Regions from separate parts of the Homo sapiens genome. Here region 1 is linked to region 2. Evidence: fine-mapped expression QTL. Tissue or cell type: whole blood. Region 2 holds a variant in brackets; the other region holds the start of a gene. All regions are shown on one strand. Distances are from middle to middle.

Evidence for each region. PIP is the estimated chance that this variant, and not a neighbour inherited with it, causes the effect.
Region 1: it holds the start of CPEB4, and the variant in region 2 is fine-mapped to the expression of CPEB4 in whole blood (INTERVAL, PIP above 0.99).

What each region holds. Positions count from the first base shown.
Region 1 is chr5:173,884,482-173,892,481 of GRCh38, forward strand. It overlaps CPEB4 (cytoplasmic polyadenylation element binding protein 4), which reads left to right and starts at 3,868. Exons shown (of 10, transcript NM_030627.4): 1 at 3,868-6,377. The coding sequence starts at 5,253. RefSeq lists enhancers at 159-408, 3,375-3,614, 5,639-6,140, 6,141-6,640 and a silencer at 6,145-6,439.
Region 2 is chr5:173,849,312-173,857,311 of GRCh38, forward strand. No RefSeq gene overlaps it. Among named protein-coding and RNA genes, the nearest start is that of CPEB4, 35 kb to the right of the region's middle. RefSeq lists cis regulatory regions at 4,040-4,580, 6,222-6,791 and an enhancer at 6,375-6,669. The variant C/T (reference allele first, on the strand shown) is at 3,528.

The sequences.
Region 1 (8,000 bases), 35 kb after region 2:
AAAAGGATCAAGTGCTTTAAATATTTCTGCAGGCAATAAGCATGGCTCATGTAATGAGCTTTTTTTGTATGTGTGTCATATTTGTATAATGTGCCCCTGTGTCTTAGAAAAAAAGAACTGAAACAGGGCTGCTGCCTTGTACAACTCCATTGGATGCATTCACATACTAGTCTGTGGTGCCTTATGAAGTTGCACAGTGCACAACCAGGGCAGCCTTGGGTAGTGGTCCTGATTTTTGGTCATTAGACAAGCCTCTGGGGAGCTCGGGTGTGGGCTATTGGGAGAAGGCTGACAATGCATGCTTCAAGGAAAGTGGTGGGAGACATTAGAGCTGGACTGGGGCAGAGTTCACCTTGTGTGATTATGGGGTGAGATTTCTACTGCTTGCCGAGCTTTAAAAGAGGCTGGTGAAGGAGATATTAATGCCCTGCTTCCTGGAAGGCTCTAGGTTCTGGGTGTGGTTGACCTCAAACCCCAGAGGGGGCTGGGCAGTAGCTACCAGGTTACAGGCATTCCCCAGCCTACAACTTCTCTGAAGGTGTGTTAGCCCTCATTGTACTAGACAGGGATAGAGCTTTTTAATTTTTTTTTTTTTTTAACTAGTAGCACCTTAATGTTTGGGCAGAACTTGCTTCCCCTGCAACCCAAAAACTTTCTGGTGAGCACACTTCATGAAAAAGGCTCTCTTCTGCCAGCAGAGTGCTCAAGCCAGCACTCACCTACATCTGTAGATCCTTTTGGAGATCCTAAATGGAGCTGCTGAATTGTTGTCATGGTTACCATGGGAAGTTTCTGAGGCCAGAATGTTTTCAAGGAGCGCAGCCCTGGGCTCTGGGTATCCTGGGTTCCTGAGTAGGCAACTGATGCCAAAAAAAAAAAAGAAAAAAGAAAAGAAAATAATAGATTTCCCCCTTCCTTCTTCCATACTTCCAGTCCCTAAGCAAGAGTCTGATGTCTTAGTGATCATCCTAGCTGCAAACCATCCCAATCTACTGCCCACACCTGACTTAGCCTTAAAAGATTAGCCCGACTTGGCAGCACCTGACTGTGGCCCTGGGCGTCTCCACCTTTTATCAACCAAGACAAGTTCCTGGATTCCCTTGTGCACACAGCTGCTTCTAGGCAAAAGACACTTGTGAAGGAATTCCCTGCATTTAATGTGTTACAAAGGAAGTGACATTTTTGATCACCTCTGATATGGTTTGGCTCTGTGTCCCCACCCAACTCTTATCTCAAATTGTAATCCTTATGTGTAGACAGAGGGAGGTGATTGGATCAAGGGGGCAGTTTCCCCATGCTGTTCTCCTGATAGTGAGTTCTCATGAGCTCTGATGGTTTTATAAGTGTTTGACAGTTCTTCTTTCACTCTGGTCTCTCCTGCCGCCTTGTGAAGAAAGTGCTTGCTTCCCCTTCGCCTTCCGGCATGATTGTAAGTTTCCTGAGGCTTCCCCAGTCACGTGGAACTGTGAGTCAATTAAACCTCTTTCCTTTATAAATTACCCAGTCTTGGGCATTTCTTTATAGCAGTGTGAAAATGGACTAATAAAACTTTTTAGGAGTCCAGCACTTCACATGTATCCCATGTAATTTACAAACTTAGCAAGAGAGGAAATATCATTCACATTTTATCTAGAAGGAACCAAGGGCTTATAGAGGTGATGCCCAGTTTTGCACAGCTAGGAAGCAGCAGAGCTGGGATTCAAATTCAGGGCTGTTTGGTTCCAAAGGTGCTCTTTTTTCCAAGTCATGGCTGCCATTTTAGCCACTGATAATTAGTAGCTCTGAGGGACCCTAAACCATCTTCTGGGCATGGAACATTCATTTGTTCATTCAATAAATGTGTTCTGAGTTTTGAGTCTGCTCTGTGCCAGACCCTCTTCTGGCCACTGGGGACATAAAGATAAATCAGACACAACCTCTGCCCTTAAGAAACTAACCCACTGACAACCAGCAGTAATTAAAAGAGAGCAATCTACAAGACATTAGAGAGAGGGCCAGTCAAGGAAACCATTCTGGCGGAAAAGACACCTGACGGAACCAGCTAAGTTTCCAGGCATGTCCAGTTGTAGGGAATAAACAGCAGGTAAGACCCAATCTCTATGCTCAAAGAATCCATAGTAGAGTTACAGAGACAAGACTCATGCTCATGGCACAATGAAAGAGAATAAAATCACCGATTGAAGGCCCTCAGGTGTTCTACACGGAAGTGATGGAGGATTGACAGACTGAGGCAGAAGTTGAGACCATTAGAGGAAGGCTATGGAAATGAAATGGAAGCCACCTTTGTTCATACTATTTTTCATTAATCTTGGTATCTTTTTTTTCCCTCTAGTTGTGCCAGTTACTTCTGGCTCTACCCTGATTTCTTTGTTCATTTTTCTTCCTGCTAAAGGAAAATACTCACTTATTTAACATATTTAAAGCTGTGCTGAGAGCAAAGCATTATCCTAAGCCCTGATGGTGGTCATAGCGTTGGGAATGTACAAAGATAAACAGGACATTAAAGCCCTTGAGTACCAAACATAATGAAAAGTCTGATATGTGAGCTCCAAACCAAATGGCAAAAGGAAGGAAATAATTAATTCAGACTTGGAAACAGGAGTGAGGGGTGGGGGGTGGGTGACGGGTGGAAGGGGTGGCAGTGGGTTGGGGGGCTGTCACTCAGGGAAGACTTCATTGTTGCTGGTTTGTTCATTCACGTTTTCAGGATTCATTCACTGATGTCTCCTATCTACAATGTCTGCTCCTGAAAGAGCCCACGGTCCAGCACAGGTCTGGAAGACATAAACCATCACAATATAGTGTGAGAAACAAGCACGAGAGGTACACAGGGCCGTGGACGCTTATAAGAGAGAATTCAGAAGATGCTGTTGGTGGCTTTTGAACTGATTCCTAGAAATAAATAGGAATTTACCAAAGGAGAAGAGTGGAAAGGACATGTAAAAAGGCATTGAGAGTGTGTTTGGAGGGGGAAGAGGCACTAAGATATACCACCCATTAGGTAGAAAGGCTTGAATACCAGACTAACAAGTTTGGCCTTTATCTTCGAAATAATGGGCAACCATAGAAGAAATCGGAGCATGTGAGGGTCAAGATAAAATTTTAGTTTTGGAATTTTCCCTCTGGTATTGCGTGTAAGGTGTACTAGATCGGGATGATACGGGGGCATAGCCACAGACGCCTCAGCTGCATCTCTGCACCTGGGAGACTGCACCAGATGCGAGCCTAGCAGAATGGGAGAGTGGGAGGTGCGGGTGAGCGAATGGAAGGTTAAGGGAGAGTCCCTCGTGAGGTCTACATTCTGGGCAAGGGCAAACGCAGTTCTAGGCACCGCACAGCTGCTGGCAAGACCCGCCTCCCCTTCCAGATCCCTCTGGGGCGGAGCTCGGGCCAGAGCACGTGATGCTTGGAGCACCACCTTTACTGTGGGCACCCTTCTCATTCATCCGCGGTTTCACGGGCCGCCACTTCGATCTCCAACACCTTGACCGTATGCCTTCGTGAGCGAGGAATCCGTTCTCCTTGACACGTCCCTATTGCTCCTCCTGCAAAGCCCAGTTAGGGAAGAGAAATATCAAAGGAGTCCCTTGCCCACACAAAAGATGGCGACCTGCTGCGCTCACTCTGGGTGGGGGAAGCGGGTTCCAGGCGCCGGGCCTCACTAGGCGAGGCGCAGACGGAAGAGGCGTCTCTGGAGGTAACTTTTCGACCTTCCTGGGAGTAGCTCTGAAGCGAGGGGGCGTGGCCTCGCCTGAGTTCTAACAGATGATTGGTCTTCCGGCAGGTAGGTGGGGAATGAGTGCTACCCCCACCCCTCCCTCTTCGAACCGGAAGTGTCTCTGGGTCTTTCCAGCTGGTTGTCATTTCACTCGGCTCGGTCCTGAGGAGAAGGACTCAGCCGCGGCTGCGGGACCCGGGCACCGGGAGGCGGTGGCGGCGGCGGCGGCGGCAGCAGCGGCGACAGCAGAGGAGGAAGAGGAGGAAGAAGGAAAGAAAAAGAAGAACCAGGAGGAGTCCTCAACAACGACAGCGGGGACTGCGGGACCAGGGTAAAGCGGCGACGGCGGCGACGGCCCAGCAACCGTGAGGAGAAACAAAAGCCTTCTAAATTATAGTTTAAAAAAAAATTCTGGGGGAAAAGAGAGAGAAAGCCGAGGGGGGAGGCCCTTCTCCTTTAAAATAACTACGGTAGTGGGTTTTTCCTTTTTTTCCTCTTTTTTCCCTCTCTGCGGAGAATCGAACTGAGGGAACTGAACAAACCGCCCCTGGGTCCCATGAGGGAAAAAAACCCCGGAGCCGCAGAGAGGGGAAGAGGCAGAAACCGCAGGACCTTCCAGGTCGCCCCCTCGGTCCCCGCACCCCCAGGCCGCCCGCTCACCCTCGTCGAGTCTCGCTAATCCCTCCTGATCGCGACCCCCGCAAGAGGGAGAAACGGGTGTTTCCAACCCCTTTCATGGGGGAGAGGAAGCCGCGGGGAGCCCAGGAACAGCGACCGCAGCAAGATCTGCACCCGGAGCCTCAGGAACAGCCCCAGAGGCCAAAACTGCACCCTGCGAAAGAGCAGAAAACAGGACCAGGAACAGCAGAAACCTCCCTGCAATCATCTTTCCATTAGTCAATGCTGATTTCCTCTCCCGAAACCAGGAATTCACTTCCCACCCCAGATAACCTAATATAATCTATATATATAAATATATAATATATAATGTTCTTAAATTATTCCTGATTTTTTTTTAACCAAGCTGCCAAGAAAAGAACGTATTCCCCTCTTAGTCCTATTCTAATTTTTATGTGAGTGAATCTAAACTGCTGAGGAAAACCATATGTGATTGTTAAATTATATATATCTATATTTTTACTCCGCGCAAGGCTTATTCTTCTACATCCATAGATGCTTGAGAAGCTCTGTTTTTGTCATTCATGTACATTTTCCTTTGGAAAAAGAAAGCGCCTATTTTACTAACCAAAGACTTGATTTTTACCCTCTTCATTTTTATTCCCTCCTAAAAATAAGCCCAATTGGATCCAAGTCAATGTTTTAAGAGATTTTTTTAAGAGTTGTTTTTTCTTTCAGAGACCAGAATTCCAAATCAGAACAATTTAAGGTGATAAGCTGCGATCTTTGAGCTAGCTATAAATAAGACATTTCAAGCAAGCAAGCAAACAACTTAAATTTGGGGTAGAGGAAAAAAAAGGCGTGAGACATCAGGTTGTCATTTTTTATTGTGAGATTCTGCTCCTAAAGATAATAAATGGGGGATTACGGGTTTGGAGTGCTAGTGCAAAGCAATACTGGGAATAAATCTGCTTTTCCAGTCAGATTCCATCCACATCTGCAGCCTCCACACCATCACCAAAATGCCACCCCCAGCCCTGCTGCTTTTATAAATAATAACACAGCTGCCAATGGCAGCAGTGCTGGGTCAGCTTGGCTTTTTCCTGCTCCAGCTACCCATAACATTCAGGATGAGATCTTGGGGTCAGAAAAAGCAAAAAGTCAGCAACAGGAACAGCAAGACCCCTTAGAAAAGCAGCAGCTTTCCCCAAGTCCAGGTCAGGAAGCTGGAATACTGCCTGAAACAGAGAAGGCAAAATCAGAAGAAAATCAAGGGGACAATTCTTCGGAAAATGGCAATGGGAAGGAGAAAATAAGGATCGAATCTCCAGTGTTGACAGGGTTTGATTATCAAGAAGCCACTGGGCTAGGTACTTCAACCCAACCCTTGACATCTAGCGCATCGTCTCTTACTGGTTTCAGTAACTGGTCAGCAGCGATAGCGCCTTCCTCCTCTACAATAATCAATGAAGATGCAAGTTTCTTTCACCAGGGAGGGGTCCCTGCTGCTTCGGCTAATAACGGTGCTCTGTTGTTTCAAAATTTCCCCCATCATGTCAGCCCTGGCTTTGGAGGCAGCTTCTCTCCTCAGATCGGGCCTCTCTCACAGCACCACCCACATCACCCTCATTTCCAGCATCATCACAGCCAGCATCAGCAGCAAAGGAGGTCTCCTGCCAGTCCCCATCCCCCACCCTTCACACATAGAAATGCTGCTTTTAACCAGCTGCCTCATTTGGCGAATAATCTTAACAAACCCCCCTCTCCGTGGAGCAGCTACCAGAGTCCGTCACCAACACCCTCCTCTTCCTGGAGCCCGGGCGGTGGTGGATATGGTGGCTGGGGAGGTTCCCAAGGCCGAGATCACCGCAGAGGGCTGAATGGTGGAATAACGCCCCTGAACTCCATCTCGCCTTTGAAGAAAAATTTTGCAAGCAATCATATTCAGCTCCAGAAGTATGCTCGCCCCAGCTCTGCCTTTGCACCTAAATCCTGGATGGAAGATAGCTTGAACAGGGCTGACAACATTTTTCCTTTTCCGGTAAGATTATGTTCCATTAATAGATTAGGATGAATAAGGAAATAGCATGGTGTAATATCTATGTAACTAGAGTTTGAAGTGCCCGTATTCACATCAGAGCTTTTCTTAGAGAGAAAATGAATCAATAACCAGACTTTATTTTAGCAGGAGTGTAATTGGAACAAAATATTCAGCTGTTTCTTTGGCAGTTTTCTAAATTGTAGCCTTAATCTTGTCATAGATAATTATGAATACCTGGTAGCTGGTGATGTAGTAATTATTAACTATAATACCTTTCTTGCCTGACATGAGAATCAGGGTCAGTTTTTTCCCTATTTAGATGAGAATAAATAATATATAGATATAAATATATTTCATTGCAGAAACTATTGAATGTTTTCTGAAGTAACTATATAACTAAACAAATTTCTTTTGACACTATAAGGTAGTGATTCACTGAAAACCAGCTATTGAATTACAGTTTTCTCACTGGTTGGTTGCATTTTAAACCTGGAAACTCTCTGAACCTTGTAGGTCTGAACAGCCTGAATTGATGGACTTGGCAATTCCTCTTAAACCTCTGCAAATTTTGGCCTACCTTTCATCAGTAAGGACTATCTAGTGAGAGAAATGATCTAAATGTTTTCTTCATCCCCATTTATTTTTGAACACTGTGAAACTGTTCATCTCAGAGTGACTCTTTATGCCTTTCACCCGTTTGTTTATTTTCCAATGTTAACATTGAAGATGTAGATAATTAAACCATTCCTAAAAATAGATCCAGGCAAAGATCATTTGTCTTTCTTGCTACCAGAATATCTTTATTCTGGCAAGAGTCATTGATGTTTTTGAATTAATGAGCAGCAAGTTAGGTTGATATGAACTAGATAAAGGGAATTTCATAGGTGGTTGAACGTCAGATGCTCCACTAAATGTATATACTTTGAGGGTATGATTATATGTGTTTAGGAAATTTATAAGGGGTAAGAATCTAGCATTGAATCTAGTTTTCCCAACAACCTCACAAGATGAGTTCTGTTATTATCCCCATTTTACAGATGCAGAAATTGAATATGAGAAATATATAATAACTTAGCCAAGGGTACACAGCTGGTCAGAGTACAAATTCTAAGTTAAAAAAAAAAACAAACCCAAGGATTGAAAATATGTATACATACATGTGTGCACGTACACATGTGCTACAGCTAGAGGGTTACTTTAGAAATATTTCTGCAAAGGCTGAAACAGATTATAGAATCATTGCACTGTTCCCAAATACGATGTTAGCCCTAGCAGAATTATCTGTTTTAATTAGTAATTGACTGAGAGGGAGGGGAAGTTTGCTAAGAGAACCCTATGTCATTCCTTTCCTAAGGATTCAGGTGCAGTGCATCTTAAAATATGTGGGTATATTTAGTTTTCGACTTCTAAAAACGATTTTTTTTTTTTTTTGCCTATCAAAAAGCTGTTGGCATTTGCTTTAAAGGGTTTCAGTTGTTAAAACCAAAGATCAATTACTGTGCTTTAGTGGTCAAGTAAAAAGGCTGTTTAAGACATTGACAATCCCATGAAGTCTATTTTTAAAAAGTTGCCTTTGATATTCCTTTGAACATAAATTTAAAGAAAATTTAATGCAAAGATAAG
Region 2 (8,000 bases):
GTTCTCCCTGTGGTCTTTCTATGTGGCATGTGCAGCTGGATTCTAAAAGGGAATATTCAAAGGGTGTGAAAATGAAAGCTGTAGATCTCCTATGGCCCAACCTTGAGAGTTACACAGAAGCACTTCTGTTGCATTCTTTTGGTCAAAGCAAAGCAAGAGGGCCAGTTCAGATTCAAAATAGACTCCTCTCCTTCGTGAAAGGAGAGGCAAAAATGTGCAGCCATCTTTATATGCACCATCCCTTACTTGTATATCCTCCTAAATCACCTAGTAGGATACATAATAGGTGCTTAATAAAAATTTGTTAGGGATCAATGTATTCAATTATTTATTTATTTATTTAGAGATGGTGGCTGGAGTGCAGTGATGCAATCTCAGCTCATTGCGACCTCCACCTCCTGGGTTCAAGCAATTTTCCTGTCTCAGCCTCCCTAGTAGCTAGAACTACAGGCACTCGCCACCATGCCCGGCTAATTTTTTTTTTGTATTTTTTTTTTGTATTTTTTTTGTAGAGACAGGGTTTTGCCATGTTGGCCAGGTTGGTCTGGAACCCTGACCTCAAGTGATCCACCCGCCTCAGCTTCCCAAAGTGCTGGGATAACAGGCATGAGCCACCACGTCCAGCCTGATTTAATCATTTATTTATTCATTTATTTGGGAATCATTGGCCATGAAATAGACCAATAGTCTTGGAAAACACTAGAAGGCGGCTCAATGCGCTGAAGAGAGTCCACCAGACCTATGGTCAGACTTTGCCTTTCTTATGACCTTAGGTAAATTGCTTAGTCTTTGGAACTCAGTTTCCTCATCAGTAAAATGGCATAACTATGCCTACAGATGAGAGTAACAACACCCACCTCACAGGGTATTTCCAGGTTTAATTGCTCATGTGTTCTAGCCCTGCTTGTTCACTTTGAGGTGATATGACCCAGTAGAGAAAAACTTACTCCCCTGAGAAACAAGTTTTATTTTGGTGGTGCAGGGGTGGCGGACCCTCTGGTGTTACTTTAGAGCACTTTCATTTGAAACAGTTACAACACTACAAACAAACAAGACATAGACTTTTTGCTTTTTGAAGATAATTAATTGAAGAAAACGAGTAATAGAGGTTGCCTCTGGGGAACCAGGAATCAGAGATGGAAGGGAAGTGTGTGCTTTACTCTGTACTTGTTGGCACTGTGTGAATATTTCTCTTACAGGTCTCTCTCTCCAAAGAGAGAGAAAGAGAATTTAAATATGAGGAATTCAGATACAGTTGAAACAATTTCTTCTGGGTCACAGTGACTTCAGTGAGCACATAGCTGTTCATTAATATAATTCACAGCCACAAAAAAAGATGTGAATCACATTTTTCCTATAACAAGAAGCCTTGAAAAGAGCACCCGGAGTGGGGCTCTGAGGCTTCTTATCTCTCCACCCCTGTGGCAGTTTCCTCTCGGATCCTTGGGGTGCTTCTGCATTTGTTCATTAAATGCCTGCTCAGACTGGAGACAGCTCAGGCAATGTCCTGTCATTGCTGGACATGACATGTTCGATATACTGTCACAGTCTCCTTCCCGCATGCCCCCTCGGTGGCCCTCACTTCTGTTTGGCTCAATCATTTAATTTGCAGACTCCAGGCAGCCTAATTCCTAATCTTTCTTTAGCAAGATCATGATATGTGATGCATTGGGAGCCAGTCAAGGAGGTGAGGGGAAGTCTGGAAGACGAATAGATGAAAGGAGGGCAGGAAGGGAGGGAGGAAAGAGGAAGGAAGAGGTGCTGATTCTTGCAATTTTCTAGAACCTCTCCAAAGTCTTTTTTCCTCCATGACCCTTTCTCCCCTTGCCCTGGGATTCTCTTGTCCTCACTACCCTTGCAGTCTCCCACTCCTGCGTATTGTACAAGCTGGTGCAGACTGAGAAATGTTGCTCTGAAAGACAGGAAAGGGAATTTTTTTAAACATCTGCTTCATTACCCAGCTCCCCACTGCCCAGCCACCAATACACACAGACACATTGAATGTCTCCACAGGTCCTCTCAGCTCTTTGAAAATGATGAACTATCCAATCATTCACTTCTCTAAGTCTCCACCACCCCATCCCTGTCACTCCAGATGAGAAATTCATATAAAGATGGCTTTGCTCAGAAAACAATGTTGCCTGTGGCCATTAAGAAAAAAAGGTCTGCCCACCCTTAAATGTTTATCATAGCTCCTGATTTTTTTCTTTTCTTAAATCTTTTTTTCTTTTTTTTGACTTGGAGCAAGGAGGGTCTGACTGTCACTTGGAGCTAAACCAGTCTCCAAGTGGCCATCAGACCCTCTTTGCCCCAAGTCAGTACCGTCCTCAGTGACAGCTCTGATATGGGTTAAATTGTGTCACCCAAAAAGACGTGTTGAAGCCCTGACCCCCATACCTTGGAGTGTGACCTTCTTTGACAGTAGGGCTGTTGAAGATGTCATTAGTTAAGATGAGGTCATACTGGAGTAGGGTGGGCCGTTAATCCAGTATGACTGGTGCCTTCCCAGAAGAGGAGAAGGGACATACATGAAGTCACATAAGGGAAGAACACCATATGACACCGGAGGAAGGGGCTGGAGTGATGCAGCTGCAGGCCGGGGAACATCAAAGATCGCCAGCCAACCACCGGAAGCAAGGAGAGGCAAGGAAGCATCTGCCCAGAGTTTCAGAGGAACAGGGCCCTGCTGACACCATGATTTTCCAACCCTGGCCTCCAGAGCTGTGGGAGAATACGTTTCCATTGTTTTCAGCCACCCAGTTTGTGGTACTTTGTTTATGGCAGCCCTAGCAGGTTGATATAACTTCCTGCTATTGCCTTTGAAGCTACCGCTGGACAATAGTCTTTCAAAAGGAACTAGGGGTTTGATTTCAATGGGATGAATTTGAATAGAGTTTTGGGAGCGAAACACATATGCTGTCACTGAATTCTCAAAAAGCCTGATTTCCTCCAAGTGTCCTATCAAAAATATAAAGACATTTGAAGATAAAACACACCTTCCTTTTCCTTATCCGAGAAAACCCCAAGTTCTCAGGATAACAGACACGGGACGGCAGAACTCAAGAGAGAGTGGACTTGTGGCAAATGTGGAATCCCAGGCCCGCTGTGTGGCTATCAGCTGCGTGGTCTTGATTGAGTGTGTCAGTCAGGGTCCTGGAGGAAACGCCACTCACTGCAGATGGGTCAGGTGAAGAGACTTTAAGGAACTGACCACATGCTGTGTGCTGTGGCTCCCACCTATCATCCCAGCTACTTGGGAGGCTGAGGTGGGAGGATCACATGAGCCCAGGAGTTCAAGGCTGTGGTGAGCTATGATCGCACCACTGTACTCCAGCCCAGGTGACAGAGCGAAACCCCATCTCTCTACTATAAAATGAAAAAAAAAGAAAAAGAAAAAGAGGGAAGGGACCACACAGGTGCTGGGAGGATGAGGAAATAAACCAGGAATGACGAAGCATGCAAAGAAGAGCAACGAGGAGGAGTTGTTACCCCTTCAGAGCAGAGGGGACAGACGGAGGAAACGGTGG[C/T]ATTGCCCTCTATCAGGCATCACACTCATGGAGGGACTCAACGACTGGCAGACAGGTGGCACCTAACTAGGTAAGGATGGGGAAGAAAGACTTCGACTTCTCTCTTCTCCTGCTAGTGCCTCAATTGGCTGAACCCAGCAGGAAGCCCAGAGGACAAGGACCCCAGCACAAAGAGATGGCAGAGAGAGCAAATGGAGAAGAACTACTACAGCAAGCCATTCTCCATTCCGAACTAAGTATTTCCCTGGCCAAATGGGAGTAAGAATACTGACTGCTAGGCTTGTGACATGCCTATCACTTGGTCATGAATTATAAGGGACATAGCACAATGCTGGGCAAAGAGGATTGTCCTCGAGAAACACCCAGTGAATAAACAATTAATGGGCTGAGTGGATTTTCTTACGAGGCACACACATCATTCTTTTTTTCTAAAAAAAAAAAAAAAATCTCCAATGATAGACTTGGATAAATTATGCCTCAACTCCATGTCATAAAAGGTACAGAGGGAATTGTACAGCATATTAGAGATAATTAACTCCAAGTAGAATCAGGGCTGCCAGAATTCAGGAAGGACTCTGTGAGTCAATCTCACCCTAAAAAGGCACTGAGGCGCATGTACAGAAAGGAAAATAGAAGCCAATTAATTCAAAACATTTGGTACCTTGTAGCCTCAAGAGGTTTAGATGGAAGCACTTAGCGAGTGTGACTGAAATGGCAAGTACGTCCGGCTGCATGTGATAGATTGGTGGGAGCTGATTCAGCCACCATGCAGAGTACTGAGAAGTTGTGTCCATTTCTAGGAACTGTTGACTCAAAGGCAAAATGCAAGATGGAGCTTCATTAGGGCAGGTGGGTTTTGAAGGAGAGTTGAGACAAAGGTTATTTTTATCTCGGGGCTGTTTTCCAATCTCTCCTCACTTTCAAGGAAGGGAACGGATAGAGCACCTACTGTGTGTTGAGTAGGAGCTAAAAGGCCCCTGCACACCACTTCAGCGAATCCTCACAGCAACCAGGAGAGCGAGAAGAGGAAAGAGGCTCAGGGAAGGCTTAGGGACTTTGAGCCTTGCCCAAAGTCCCATCAAAGCTGGGGGGCCCAAGAGGAATTCAAACTTATGTTGTTTTCACGCTATACCACGTGACCTTTTTTTCCTTTTCTTTTTCTTTTCCTTTTCTTTTTTTTTTTTTAGAAAGGATTTCACTCCGTCACCCAGACTAGAGGGTAGTGCATAATCATAGCTCACTGCAGCCTTGACCTCCTGGGCTCAAACAATCCTCCTGCCTCAGCCTCATTAGTAGGTGGGACTATAGGCACATGCCACCAAGCCAGGGTGACTTTTAATTGTTTTTGTACAGAGCAGGTCTCCTTATTTTGCCCAGGCTGATCTCAAACTCCTGGGCACAAGTGATCCTCCCACCTCTGTCTCCCAAAGTGCTGAGATCACCGGTGTGAGCCACCGCACCCGGCCCAAGTGACTTTTTCCATCCCATCATGTGAGTCAAACCTCTTGGCTCCACTCTCAAGATATGGTCCTAAGAAACTACAGAAACAATTTCACCATACTGGAAGAAACACAAATATCAAACAACAAAGGAAGAACAGAAAGAGGGATCCTGCAGGGAAATCCCAGTTCTGCCTCTGCCTCATAGGTTGCTACCACCAGATTTCGATGGTTCTACCACACACACTTTTTGTTTTCTTTTTCACATTTTAACATCTCAAAAATCAGAGTATATTTTACAATTGATGGCATGTCAGAGTTTAATTGACAGTTGTTATTCTTTCTTGATGGCACATTACACAATGGTGAGCCTTATCATGTACTGTTGGCACATTTATGAAATATATTATTATCAGCTTCATTTTTCACAGATGAGTAATGCAGCCTGTTCACAAGCAAATCAGTGGTCCCCTGCCCACTTCCCTGACCTCACCTCCGCCTAGGATGCCTGATTCTTTCTTTCTTTCTTTCTTTCTTTCTTTCTTTCTTTCTTTCTTTCTTTCTTTCTTTCCTTCCTTCCTTCCTTCCTTCCTTCCTTCCTTCCTTCCTTCCTTCCTTCCTTCCTTCTTTCTTTCTTTCTTTCTTTCTTTCTTTCTTTCTTTCTTTCTTTCTTTCTTTCTTTCTTTCTTTCTTTCTTCTTTCTTCCTCTCCTTTTTCTTTTTTTTTTTAGTCTCGCTGTTGTCCAGGCTCTGGGCTCACTGCAGCCTCCATCTCCTGGGTTCAAGAGATTCTCCCGCCTCAGCCTCCTGAGTAGCTGGGATTACACTCACCCGCCATCATGCCCAGCTATTTTTTGTATTTTTGTAGAGACGGGGTTTCGCCATGTTGGCCAGGCTGGTCCTGAACTCCTGACCTCAGGTGATCTGCCTGCCTAGGCCTCCCAAAGTGCTGGGATTACAGGTGTGAGCTACTGCGACTGGCCGACACCTGATTCTTTCTACATTTGCCCTCTCTTCCTCCCTCTAACCACCATTTTGTTCCTATTTGTACTGGGCCCTGTGGGCTGCCTTGTAAACACTCTTTCCTTTTTCCCTCCTGGCCAACAGGACTCTGATTTGATAGAAGCGTCCATTGATCCAGATAGGTTATCTTACCCCATATCAATTAGATACCCAATGTAATCATGGAAAATACCATTTCTCTCACTTGTGTAGTTCGGGCTGGGCTTGTGAGTCACTTGTGGTCTAAGGAAAAGTGTACTGGGGACTCCTGGGGAAAGCTTCTTCTCTTTTAGAAGATACAGAAGTTTTCTTTGTTTCGCTAGACAGTTGTGTCTGGATGTGCCTGGCACTACAGGCACCATGAAGGGACCCAGCCTTGGGATGGGCAGAGACACAGAAGGAAACCAGGCCCTGATGATGTGGTGCAGCAGTGCTGTGTTCCCCATTTTCCACCTTTTACTTGAGAACTCCCAGCTCAGTGAGATAAAAATGTGCTTATCGTAGAAGCCACCTTGAGTCGGGGTTTTCTGTGACTTGCAGCTGAAGGCCTCCTCATTTACGGGCAGCCTCAGGGCTTTCCTCTCACTGTTTTTCTGCTTGACCCTCTCCCCCTGGCTGGCTCCGCCTCATTCTTCAGGCCCAACTCAGAGGTCACTCCTGTCACCTCCCTGTTGGATGTGCTCCCGCCAGTCACTCCATCTCGTTCTGTTCTGTTTCCCGCAGAGCCCTTGGGATTCATTAAACTCGTCTGGTTTAAGGACAGCACTTGATTCCCCCACACCAGAACATAAGCCCCAAGACAGCAGGGACATGCCTGTCTTATTCACTCCAGGACTCCAGGACTTAGCTCAGTGCCTGCCATATAGTAGACACTCAATAAATCATCTCTGAGTGATCAAGATGTAGAGAGCTGGCATTTTAAACCCAAGCATTTTACATCTTGCTAGATGCCACCTTTCAGAACTCTTTACCTCCCTGTTTTAGGATTCAGGCTCCTTGTTTCCCTAGCTAGGCCCTGCTCCTTAGCTCACAGATGCCATTTCCCCCTAAGCATCAGCATTCTCTCTTTGCAGGTGAACTCTTAAAAAGGAGACAATCCTCCTGCCTCAGCCTCATGAGTAGCTGGGACTACAGGCACATACCACCAAACCAGGGTGACTTTTAATTGTTTTTGTACAGAGCAGGTCTCCTTATTTTGCCCAGGCTGATCTCAAACTCCTGGGCACAAGTGATCCTCCCACCTCTGTCTCCCAAAGTGGGAGCTGCCTGCCCTGCATTCCATTGCTCAGCTCAGGATTGAATTGATGGCTGTGTTCTCCAGGCCAAAATCCTGGGCACAGAATTGGGATGGCCTTATCATCCCTCTGCTCCACCTTCTTGCTTTCTCTGCCAGTAGCCCCTACCTAATCTGCTGCGGGATTGGGGGTGGGGGGCAGTAGTTATGATGGTGATGGCACCATGGATCCCAAGAATTCCTCAGAAATTAGAAATTTAGGCTCAGACAGGGAAAGTGATCTGGTCATAGGCAGTAGTTGGAAGACACGGGAAGAGAACCCAGCTTTCCTCTCTCTCCCGGTTCCAGGATCTTTCCAGTAACCTGTTACTTCTTTTTAGATAGAGACATAGTAAACTGAAAGTTGTCGTTACTTCCAAGGTGAACTAGAGCATCTCCCTATGTTGCCCAGGCTCATCTCGAACTCCTGGGCTCAGTCCATCCTCCCGCCTCTGCTTCCCAAAGTGTTGGGATTACAGGCATGAGCCACCACGTCCAGCCCGTATGATTTCTCCAATCCCTTCATGTGAGTCAAACCTGTCAGCTGTTTCAATTCTGTGAGCCTCAATTTACCAATCTGCAGATTGAGGCACTCAGCCATTTTCCTCAGAGGGTGTGTGTGTGTGTGTGTGTTTCTTAGAAGATCATGCAAGGGCTGATATAAAGGCCATAAAAACACTAAAGCAGCCTTTCCTCTAAGTCCAGGTTCAAGGGCCCATCTAAGTCCAGCATTTTAAAATTTGACCCCTTACAAACACAC